2 separate regions of the Homo sapiens genome follow, and region 2 is linked to region 1. Evidence: fine-mapped expression QTL. Tissue or cell type: thyroid. Region 1 holds a variant in brackets; the other region holds the start of a gene. All regions are shown on one strand. Distances are between the middles of the regions.

What was found. PIP is the estimated chance that this variant, and not a neighbour inherited with it, causes the effect.
Region 2: LINC01226 starts here. The variant in region 1 is the best candidate, but not a certain one, in a credible set for the expression of LINC01226 in thyroid (GTEx, PIP 0.81).

Annotation. Positions count from the first base shown.
Region 1 is chr1:31,555,787-31,561,716 of GRCh38, reverse strand. The region is part of intron 2 of LOC124903917 (a long non-coding RNA gene); the gene reads right to left. Among named protein-coding and RNA genes, the nearest start is that of TINAGL1, 18 kb to the left of the region's middle. The variant T/C (reference allele first, on the strand shown) is at 3,590.
Region 2 is chr1:31,515,056-31,520,985 of GRCh38, reverse strand. It overlaps LINC01226 (long intergenic non-protein coding RNA 1226), which reads right to left and starts at 2,551. Exons shown (of 3, transcript NR_027085.1): 1 at 2,150-2,551; 2 at 1-40.

The DNA.
Region 1 (5,930 bases):
TGGAGAGACATAAAGATTAAAAATAATAGCAAGAAATAGTAAAAGACACGAAGAATAAATGAGAAATGGATCTAACACTCTTGTAACTGGAACTTCAGGAGAGAAGAGAGAGACTAATGAAAACGTGATATTGGAAACGTCAGTGGCTGAAAATCTCCCAGAACTGATCAAAGCCATTAATCTACAGATTCAAAAAGCCCAACAAATCCCAAGTGGGATAAAAAAAAATTTTTTTTTGAGACGGAGTCTCGCTCTGTTGCCCAGGCTGGAGTGTAGTGGCGTGATCTCGACTCACTACAACCTCCACCTCCTGGGTTCAAGCGATTCTCCCGCCTCAGCCTCCCAAGTAGCTGGGATTACAGGTATCCGCCATCATGCCCGGCTAATTTTTGTATTTTTGTAGAGAAGGGGTTTCACCATGTTGGCCAGGCTGGTCTTGAACTCCTGACCTCAGGTTATCCACCTGCCTTGGCCTTCCAAAGTGCTGGGATTACAGGCATGAGCCACTTTGCCTGGCCAGATAAAATTTTTTTTTAATTTGCTGAGTGTGGTGGCTCACGCCTGTAATCCCAGCACTTTGGGAGGCCAAGGCGGGCAGATCACGAGGTCAGGAGATCAAAACCAGCCTGGCCAACATGGTGAAACCCGTCTCTAGTAAAAATACAAAAATTAGCCAGGCTTGGTGGTGCATGCCTGTAGACCCAGCTACTTGGGAGGCTGAGGCAGGAGAATCGCTTGAACCCGGGAGGCGGAGGTTGCAGTGAGCTGAGATCGCACCATTGCACCCCAGCCTGGCGACAGAGCGAGATTCCTCTAAAAAAAAAAAATTAATTTACACCTAGAAAAGCTTACATAGTGTATGATTCCAACTATGTAACATTCTGGAAAAGACAAGGCCATGGAGACAGTAAAAAGATCAGTGGCTGCCAGGGGTTTGGGGTGAGAGAGGATGAATAGATTAGAACAGGAAATTTTTAGAACAGTGAAACTATTTTGTATGATGCTGTAATAGTATATACATTTCATTATAAGTTTGTCAAAACCCATAGAATTTACAATACAAAGAGTGAACCCTAATGTAAACTATGGACTTTGGTCGATAACGATAATGTTGGTTTATTGATTGTAACAAATGTACAACACCCATGGAGGATGTTGATGTTAAGGGGGGCTGTGTGTGGAAAACGAGGGAGGGGCATGTGGAAACTCTCTGTACTTTGGTTTTTTTTCTTTTTCTTTTTTCTTTTTTTTAATTTTGAGACAGGGTCTCACTCCATCGCCCAGGATGGAGTGCAATGGTGCAATCACAGCTCACTGCAGCCTCGACCTCCTAGGCTCAAATGATCCTTCTAATAGCCTTCCTAGTAGCTGGGACTACAGACGTGCACCACCAGGTCTGGCTACTAATTTTTGTATTTTTTTGTAGAGATGGGGTTTGCCATGTTGCCTAGGCTGGTCTCGAATTCTGGGATTAAGCGATCCTCCTGCCTTGGCTGGGATTACAGGCATGGACCACTGCATCTGGCCAACTCTACTCTCTACTTGATTTTGCTGTGAACCTAAAACTGCTCTAAAAAAAAATGAAGTCTATTAATTCAAAAAGAATTTGCACCTAGACATATGTGGTGAAATAGCAGAATACCAAAGACAAAGAGAATATCTTAAAAACTGCCAGGAAAAAATGTCAGATTATCTTCAACAGAGCAAGGTAAGCTGAGAGCTAACTTCTCAAGAGCAACATTAAAAGACAGAGGATAGCAGAAAGATCATCTTCAATGTGCAAAAAGAAAATAATTGCAGGCCAAGAATTCTATACCCAGTGAAAACATCCTTTAAGAATGAATATGAAATAAAGACATTTTCAGACAAACAAAAGCTGTAAGTGTATGTCACCAATGGACTTGGAGTAGAAAGAAAAAAAAGCTCAAATTGAAGGTCAAAAATGCTAGAAAGAATGAAGAGAATTCAAATGGCAAATACATGGCAAATCTAAATGAAACTCGATTGTATAAAACGTTAATAATAGTGGTTAAAATGGAATTAAACTGTTGTAAGTTCTTTACATTGTCTTGGAGTAAATGTATCAATTAACTCTAGACTTGAACAAGTTAAATGTTCAGATTATAACTTCTAGGTTACTGGATAATGAGTAAAACAGACAGTGTAATTTCCAAATTAGTCGAAGAAAGCAGAAGTTTTTTTTTGGGTGAGATCTACTAAAAACAACAACAACAACAACAACAAAAATTAATATCAGACAAAATGGACTTTAAGGCGAGAAGTACTATTAGGAATAGAGAAGATCACTGTATAATAATAAATGGGGCTGAGCACAGTGGCTCATGCCTGGAATCCTAGCACTTTGGGAGGCAAAGGTGAGCAGATCCCTTGAGCCCAAGAGTTCGAGACCAGCCTGGGCAACATGGCTAAATCGCATCTCTACAAAAAATACAAAAATTAACTGGGCATGGTGGTGCATGCCTGTAGCCCCAGCTACTCGGGAGGCTGAAGTAGGAGGATCACTGGAGCCCAGGAAGTGGAGGCTGCAGTGAGCCATGGATCGCATTACTACACTCCAGCCAGGACAACAGAGTGAGACCCTGTTTCCAGAAACTGTAATAATAGTAATAATAATAAATGGATCAAGTCATCAGGAAGATATATCGACTTATATACAACTGAAAATCAATGAGAAAAAAGATAACCAAATCAAATGTTGAACAAAATACTTGAACAGGCATTTAACAAAAAGGAAAACCAAATTATGAATAAACATATGAAAAGATGCTTAACATCACTAGTAATCAGAGTACAAATTAAGACCACAAAAAGATATCACTACACACTCACCATATTGGGATAATTTACAGTTTTAACCATATCATGTGTTGGAAATTTCTAGACCTACAGAAAAATGTGACTGTTAAGAGAAAAAATAGATAGTAGTATCGGAACCACAGTGCCCCACATACTGGAGTTAGCAGACAAAAAAATGTAAGATAACCAATTAATATGTTAAATAAAATAGATGAAAAGATTGGCAAAGTAGATAAAAATAGAGATTGTCAGCAGAGGAAGTGGGATATCTTTCAAAAATAAAATGTTCTAGGACTGAAAAATACAACATCTGAAATTAAGAATTTATTGAATGTGTTTAGCAGAAGGACAAAGGACAGGGTTAGCAAACGAAGACAGGTCAACAAAAAATATCCAAGCCAGAAACACAGAAAAAAAAATAGAAGAAGGAACAGAGCGTAAGATTTGTGGGACATAGTTAGTAGATCTAACATTTGTGTAACTGTACTTCCAGAAGGCAAGAAAAAACTGAGGAAGAAGCAATATTTGAAGTAATATGGCTGATAATTTCCCAAAACTGTTGAAATATATCAACCCTTAAATTTAAGAAGCTTAGTAAATCCAGGTAGGATAAAAACAAAGAAAAGCACACAAGCGGCCGGGCGCGGTGGCTCACGCCTGTAATCCCAGCACTTTGGGAGGCCGAGGCGGGTGGATCATGAGGTCAGGAGATCGAGACCATCCTGGCTAACAAGGTGAAACCCCGTCTCTACTAAAAATACAAAAAATTAGC[T/C]GGGCGCGGTGGCGGGCGCCTGTAGTCCCAGCTACTCGGGAGGCTGAGGCAGGAGAATGGCGTGAACCCGGGAAGCGGAGCTTGCAGTGAGCCGAGATTGCGCCACTTCAGTCCGCAGTCCGGCCTGGGCGACAGAGCGAGACTCCGTCTCAAAAAAAAAAAAAAAAAAAAAAAAAAAAAAAAAAAAGAAAAGCACACAAGCATATCATTGTTAACAGCTGGAAACGAAGACAAAGAGAAAACCTTAAAAGCAGCTAGATAAGCTACGTGATGCCTACATTTCAACAGACACTATAGAATCCAAAAGGTAATTTTTTAAGTTCAGAAAAAAGAAAAAAACAAAAACCCTGCTAACCTAGAATTCTATACTGAAAAAAAAATGCGTAAGATTTAAGGTAAAACAGGCCGTGTGCGGTGGCTCACGCCTGTAATCCCAGCACTTTGGGAGGCCGAGGCGGGCGGATCACAAGGTCAGGAGACGGAGACCATCCTGGCTAACACAGTGAAACCGCATCTGTACTAAAAATACAAAAAAAAAAAAAAAAAAAAAAAAAAGAAAGAAAAAAATAGCCAGGTGTGGTGGCGGGTGCCTGTAGTCCCAGCTACTCGGGAGGCTGAGGCAGGAGAATGGCGTGAACCCGGGAGGCAGAGCAGCCTGGGCAACAGGGCGAGACTCCATCTCAAAAAAAAAAAAAAAAAAAAAAAAAAGGATTAAGGTAAAACAAAGACATTTATATACAAAGAAAAGGCTGAGAAAGTGCATTGCTAACAAACCTTAATAATGTTACAAGAAATATTAAAGGAAATTTCTTCATGCTGAAGTAAAATGATCTCAGATGAAAGCACAAACTTTACAAAGCCTGGCGTGGTGGCGCACGCCTGTAATCCCAGCTACTTGTAGGGCTGAGGTCGGAGGATCGCTTGAGGCCAGGAACTCAAGACCAGTCTAAACAACATAGCAAGAGCCTGGTCACTTAAAAAAAAAAATTGTCAGAAAAGAGGGGAGTAATTTCTTTTTTTTAAGCACAAATCTTCTGGAAGTAATACAGGGCACCAAAAAGGACAAATATATGGACAAAAATGAAATAATTAACTAATAAAATAATAATAGGAACGCCTTGTAGGGCTTATAACAGGTAGTAAAATACACAATAATAGCACATAGGGTGGAAGGCAGGTAAATGGAGTTGAACAGTTGTAAAGTTCTTGCATTGTTTTCTTTTTCTTTCTTTCTTTTTTTTTTTGAGACACAGTCTTATTGTCAGCCAGGCTGGAGTGCAGTGGCACGATCTCAGCTCACTGCAACTGCCTCCTCCTTGATTCAAATGAGCACATCCTCCGGCTAATTTTCATATTTTTAGTAGAGGCGGGGTTTCACCCTGTGGGCCAGGCTGGTCTCAAACTCCTGACCTCAAGTGATATGCCTGCCTCAGCCTCCCAAAGTCCAAAGTGCTGGGATTACAGGTGTGAGGCACCACACCCGGCCAGTTCTTGCACTGTTAAAACCATGGGAAACATTAATTTAATATGACAATATATCTGTAATAGGTCAAAGATGCATATTTAAATATCTAAAGTTAAAACTTTTTGTAAAAACGTATGAATAGAACCTAATAGAGGAAAAACTGAAATAGTGAAAACAACTTGATTATCCAAAAGAAGAAAATAATGAAGGAATAAATGAACAAAGAGCAAATAAGACAGAAAAACAAATAGAAAGATGGTAGCTCTAAATCCAACTATATCAGTAATTACATTAAATGTACATGATGTAAACAAACAGAAAGACACATATTGTTAGAATGGATTTTTGTTTAAAACCCCAATTACATTTTATTTTTAAGCAACACAATTTTAATGTAAAAACACAGAAAGGTGAAACAAAAAGATGAAAAAGTATATACCATTTAAATACTAATTTTTAATAAGTTGGTATTACTACATTAATATCAAATAAAATAGGCTTAAGACAAACAGTATTACTAGAGGTAAGATGGACATTAAATAATGATAACAGATTTTTCCAGCAGGAAAATATAACAATTCTAAACTTGTGTGCACCAAATAACACAGCTTAAAAATATACAAAGTAAGAATTATTGAGACTGAAAGGAAAAATAGACAAATATGCAGCCACCACTGGAGATTTTAACAAAATTTTTTTTTTGAGACAGAGTCTCGCCCTGTCGCCCAGGCTGGAGTGCAGTGGCAGTGGTGTGATCTTGGCTCACTGCAACCTCCGTTTCCCGGGTTCAAATGATTCTCCTGCCTCAGCCTCCCAAGTAGCTGGGATTACAGGTGCCCACCACCACGCCCAGCTAATTGTTGTATTTTTAATAGA
Region 2 (5,930 bases), 41 kb after region 1:
TTTGGCTGCTCAGACACTCATTCGTAAGAGGTGCTAAAACCTGAGAAAATGAAGTGTTGGAAGGATTGTTTGATAAGCTGCTTGGAATGTCAGTGAGTTCTCTAAGAGGCATGCCTCAATCATAATGGCTGGGAGTTGATTGCCTTCCTAGAAGATTCTGTCTGGGTAAATATTAGGCTCTTGCTTTGCTAGTAATTAGGGTGAGCAAATGTGGACCACAGCTGAATTGTTTAGGACAGGAAAGAGAAGCCAAGGACTGTCAAAAGAAACCTTCCTTTTTCTAAACCTTCCTCCACATAATGTTGTTCCTCCTCCAAATAAATGTTAAACTAGTTTTAGTTGAAATTGAGAGCAAAACCCACAAACAATAAAAAGGAAGTCAGGAGAGGCAGAAAAAAATGCACAGAACAGAAGAATGTGTCATTAAGAGTTAAACATCATCAGAAACAGAAGAGATATGCATAAAACAAGAACACTATGCTATGGAAAAGAAACAATCAGAGAACAAGAAAGAGCTCTTAGAAATTAAAAATGTAGGCCAGGCGCAGTGGCTCACGCCTGTAATCCCAACACTTTGGGACGCCAAGGCAGGTGGATCACCTGAGGCCAGAAGTTCAAGACCAGTCTGGACAACATGGTGAAACCGGTCTCTACTAAAAATACAAAAAATTAGTTGGGCCTGGTGGGGGGCGCCTGAAATCTCAGCTACTTGGGAGGCTGAGGCAGAAGAATTGCTTGAACTTGGGAAGCGGAGGTTGCAGTGAGCCGATATCATACCATTGCATTCCAGCCTGGGCAACAAGAGCTAAACTCTGTCTCAAAAAGAATTTAAAAAAAAAATAAAAAAGAATAAAAATGTAATAGCTGTTTGGTCAGGATAGGGTCAATGCTGTAACAAACCATCACAATCTCAGTGGGTTGTGACTAAGAAAGCTCATTTCTTGTTCCCATCACAGTCCCATTCTTCCCCAAGTCACAGGAAGGAATTAGCTCCATGTAGTCATTCAGGGACCCAGGCAACTTCCTTCATGAGGTCTTGCCATCTCCTAGGGTATTGAAGTACCCTACTTCTAGCCAGCAGATGAAAAAGAGCAGGAGAAGAAAAGAAGATACAGAAAGAAAATAAAAGTTACTGGGCACCGTTGGGGAAGTTGGGGCACCAACTTATTACTCTAAAAATTGTTAATTAAAGGAAAAGAATTAAGCATTTTTTATGCCTAACTGCATTTTCTGGTAATTAAATAGCCAAAATGAATGAAGGAAAGCTCTTCTATGCAGAAGAATTTCAGCTACTACATGAAGAAAAAATTAGAATCAGAAAATTATCATTTTTTAAGCCCCTAAGAAAATAACTGATTCAAGCAATGGTTTTCAATGGATGCCAAAATCACTCAGTGAAAGGTTGATGGAGAACTTCTCAGTGAAGGGTAAGGTTGCCATTGCCTGAACCTAAAGATAGATCTTAGCATCATTAAAAGCAAGACCAGCAGACATCATATGCCTCCAGGTGTGATGCACTGGAGACTTACAAGGTATCCCATGAAGTATAAAGAAGCAAGTGACTGTATCCCTAGTGTAAAAACTCTACATGAGAATTGACACAGTTTCTTCAGGAAGTCAATAGCACTGAGAACAAATATAGGAAGAGGAATTAATTTATGTTAAAAGAGAGTTAGAGGCTGGGCACAGTGGCTCATGCCTGTAATCCCAGCGATTTGGGAGGCTAAGGCAGCCAGATCACTTGAAGTCAGGAGTTTGAGACCAGCCTGGCCAACACGGTGAAACCCTATCTCTATTAAAAACACAAAAATTAGCCAGGCGTGGTGGCCCACACCTGCAGTCCCAGCTACTCAGGAGGCTAAGGCGCGAGAATCGGCTGAACTGGGGAGATGGAGGTTGCAGTGAGCCAAGATCACACCACTGCACTCCAGTCTGGGTGACAGAGCGAGACTCCATCTCAAATAATAATAATGATTTTTAAAAAGTCAACTAATAACATAAGGTGATGAGTCTGGAAAGGATGGCAAGAAAGCACACTTCATAAATATGAAGGAAAATGAAGAAAACACTTGTGTTAGGGTTCTCTAGATGGACAGAACTAATAGGATATATATATATATATAAGGGAGTTTATTAAGTATTAACTTACATGATCACAAGGTCCCACAATAGGCTGTCTGCAAGCTTGAGGAGCAAGGAGAGCCAGTCCAAGTCTCAAAACTGAAGAACTTGGAGTCTGATGTTCAAGGGCAGGAAGCATCCAGCATGGGAGAAAGATGTAGGCTGGGAGGCTAGGCCAGTCTTGCCTTTTCACCTTTTTCTTCCTGCTGTATATTCGCTGGCAGCTGATTAGATGGTGCCCACCAGATTAAGGGTGGGTCTGCCTTCTCCAGCCCGCTGACCCAAATGTTAATCTTCTTTGGCAACACCCTCACAGACACACCCAGGATCAATACTTTGCATCTTTAATCCAATCAAGTTGACACTCAGTATTAACCATGGTAAGTCCACCCCTTGTCAAGCTGAACCCATACACATCTCCTGAGATCATACATAATCTTCAAATAAAGACAATAATAAGGTCATAATTATGCCTAAAATAATACAACTATCCTTGGTACAACTGGAAACCCACCAATCCCCAACCCAAATATTATTACATAAAGTTAATAATACTTAAATGTTGATATGAAGTCAGTAAATCTTATGTCACATGATAAAGGAAAAGGAAATAAAATGGATATATTTTCTTCGTACAAGTGTATACATGCACAAACATGTTTTTAGCCAAAGAAGGAGGAAATACTCATGATAGTTACAGTCCGCATTTCTGCAGCTGGTCACATGGTCATAGGTGGTATTGATGATTACCTTCTTCTACTACCCATTCTGTATTCCCTTTGCCTTCAGCAAGCACCTCAGCAGGTTGTGGTTTTTTTCCTGGTGGAGTGACCCAAACCTTCATTCCTGAGGGGTCTGGGCTATTTGTAGTCCTGCCTGGATTGCGCTATTGTAGTTTCCCATTGACCTTAATCAAAGGGCATGGTAATACTAAGAGATGCTCTAAAGGATGTCCTGTATTCCATGCATACTCTTCCTTACCTCTGTTATGGAGTAGTAGACTGATTTTATCTTGATAGTTCACCTTCCCACTCCATCTCCCTTCTGGCTCCCCCATCTGCTGAGAGCTACTTCCACTCAATAAAAACTTGCACTCGGTCCCTAAGCCCACGTGTGATCTGATTCCTCCAGTACACCAAGGCAAAAACCCTGGGATACAGAAAGCCCTCTGTCCTTGTGATAAGGCAGAGGATCTAATCGAGCTGATTAACACAAGCTGCCTACAGATAGCAAAACTAAAAGAGCGCTCTGTAACACACACCCATTGGGGCTTCAGGAACTGTAAGCATTCACCCCTAGACACTGCCGTGGGGTTGAAGCCCCACAACCTGCCCATCTGCATGCTCCCCCTAGAGGTTTGAGCAGCAGGGTACCAAAGAAGCGAGCCACACCCCCATTGCAGGCCCTGCGAGGGGGATAAGGGAACTTTTCCCATTTCACTTGTGCTGTGATTCAGTTCCCTGGGTGACTCTGCAGGGAGGCTGGAGGGAGAGAGTTCTCCCAGAGGGACCATCCCACACCCACTTCCACCTAAGAACACCCCAGTGGGGCAGAGCAGGCCCTCCCTGCTCCACCCCAAGCAGGGCTTGTGCCCTGGCCTTTCTGGGGTGTGCTCCTGCATACTTCAAGCTCAGCCAACATGAGATACTCTGACTCAAGTGTAGGGTCAGGTGGGGAGAAATGAATGAGACCGGATCAAGCCAACCCAAGCCTATGCACCGAGTTAAGGGTGTACACACTCACTGGGCAATGGGGCAGGGTATTATCGTCCCCATTTTATGGATGAAGATATTAAAGTTCAAAAGTTTAGATGGCTTGCCCATGGTCTCACAACTGCTGTGGAGTGTGGTAGTGAAGTTCATGGACTCTGCAACCAGACTGCCAACCTTTGAGCCTGTTCTGCTGCTGATCTGGGCAAGTACTTGACCTTTCTGTGCTTCCATTTTCCTCTGCCAAATGGTGAGGCTAACACATGCTACTTGGTAGGGTTGTTATGAGGACTGAATAAGCCAATACACATGAAAGGCTGAGGATAACTTTTCCTTTGCAGTCACAACTACGCTGTTAGGTATAAGAGGCCTACCTTTCGGCCTATTTTGGCTTTCAATACACTTACCTCACTAAGTTTAATATTTCTAGCTTTTGATTTAGAGCAAGGGATGTGTGACATTTTCACTTAAACATGTAGAGACCATTTTAGGGTTATTCATTGGCCTAATTTTAATATTGTTGGGTCTCAGGGAATTGAGAGGCCTGAGGAGAAGGAGAGAGGAGTAGAGGAACCACTGATTGATGTAGTAGTTAGAACACATGCAATATTTCTTAAGTTCTCTGTCTTATATGGGTGCAATTTGTGGCACCCCAAAACAATTACAATAGAAACATCAAACATGAGTGATCACAGATCACCATAACAGATACAGTAGAAATGAAAAAGTTTGGGCTGGGTGTGGTGGCGCACACCTGTAATCCCAGCACTTTGGGAGACTGAAATGGGCAGATCGCTTGAGGTCAGGAGTTCGAGACCAGCCTGGCCAACATGGCGAAACCCCATCTCTAATAAAAATACAAAAAAAAAAAAAAAATTACCTGGGCGTGGTGCCTTGCACCTGTTGTCCCAGCTACTTGGGAGGCAAAGACACGAGAATCAGTTGAACCTGGGCAGAGGTTGGGGTGAGCCAAGATTGCATCACCATACTGCAGCCTGGGTAACAAAGCTAGACCCGAAAGGGAAAGGAAAGGAAAGGAAAGGAAAGGAAAGGAAAGGAAAGGAGAAAGGAGGAAGGAAGGAAGGAAAAGAAAGAAAGAGAGACAGAAAAAAAGAAAGAAAAGAGTGAGTTTGAAATATTGTAAAAATTACCAAAACATGACACAGAGACACAAAGTGAGCACATGCTTTAGGGAAAAAGGTGTCAGTACACTTGCTCAACAAGGGGTTGCCACAAACTTTTGCCAAAATATTCAATTTGTAAAACAAAACAAAACAAAACAAAAACACAACAAATATCTGCAGGTGCAACAAAGCAAGTGCAAGAAAATGAGGGGTGCCTGTACTGTAAATTGCTTTTGTAAAGATGCACAGCTCTACCAAGTGCCACGAACAATGAGCATAGCTTCCCTTCCTCCACTCCTGACCCTGAACACCCCTGCCCAAGGGTTCTTCTTTTTTGCCACTGTGATGAGCAACCAGCTCAAGCCAGCCCAAGTCAGCTCAAATGGCAAAAACTGGTCCAAACTTGCCAAGACCTTCCTTGGCCTCCCGAGTCCGTACTGTATTGGATCCAACCAGATAAAACCAGCTCAAACTGGCCCAAACCCAATCAGCCATGTCAGTCCAAGCTTACATATTCTTCCAACCTTTCCAACTTTTGTCCAAATCTCCTCCTGGCTTCCTGAGAGCCACCGCTTGAACAAAAGCACACACTCCCCACAGTACGCAATGTCACTCAGGCCCTGGGCAGCCTAACTCACATGGGCTCTATTCAACACATGCTGCAGCGTCAAAACTCTACTAAAAGAGATAGTTGGGTTGTTTTGTTTTGGTTTGGTTTTGCCTTAGCCAAAGTTTGTTTGTTTGTTTTGATTGCACTTTGAACTTGCACTTTTTTATTTTGATTTGCACTTCACTCTGAACAGACTAAAGAGGAAATTTCTTGGCAGGAAAGTGAGGGATCTCAGAGAAAGCAGGCGAAGAATTCAGCCTCAGGAAAGACAGGAAACCAGGAAATGGAAAGCCATCAGGAGTTTCAGGGACACTTCTCTCATTCATGTCTCCATCCTGAAGTGGAAACTGAGGCAGGAGAGCAGCT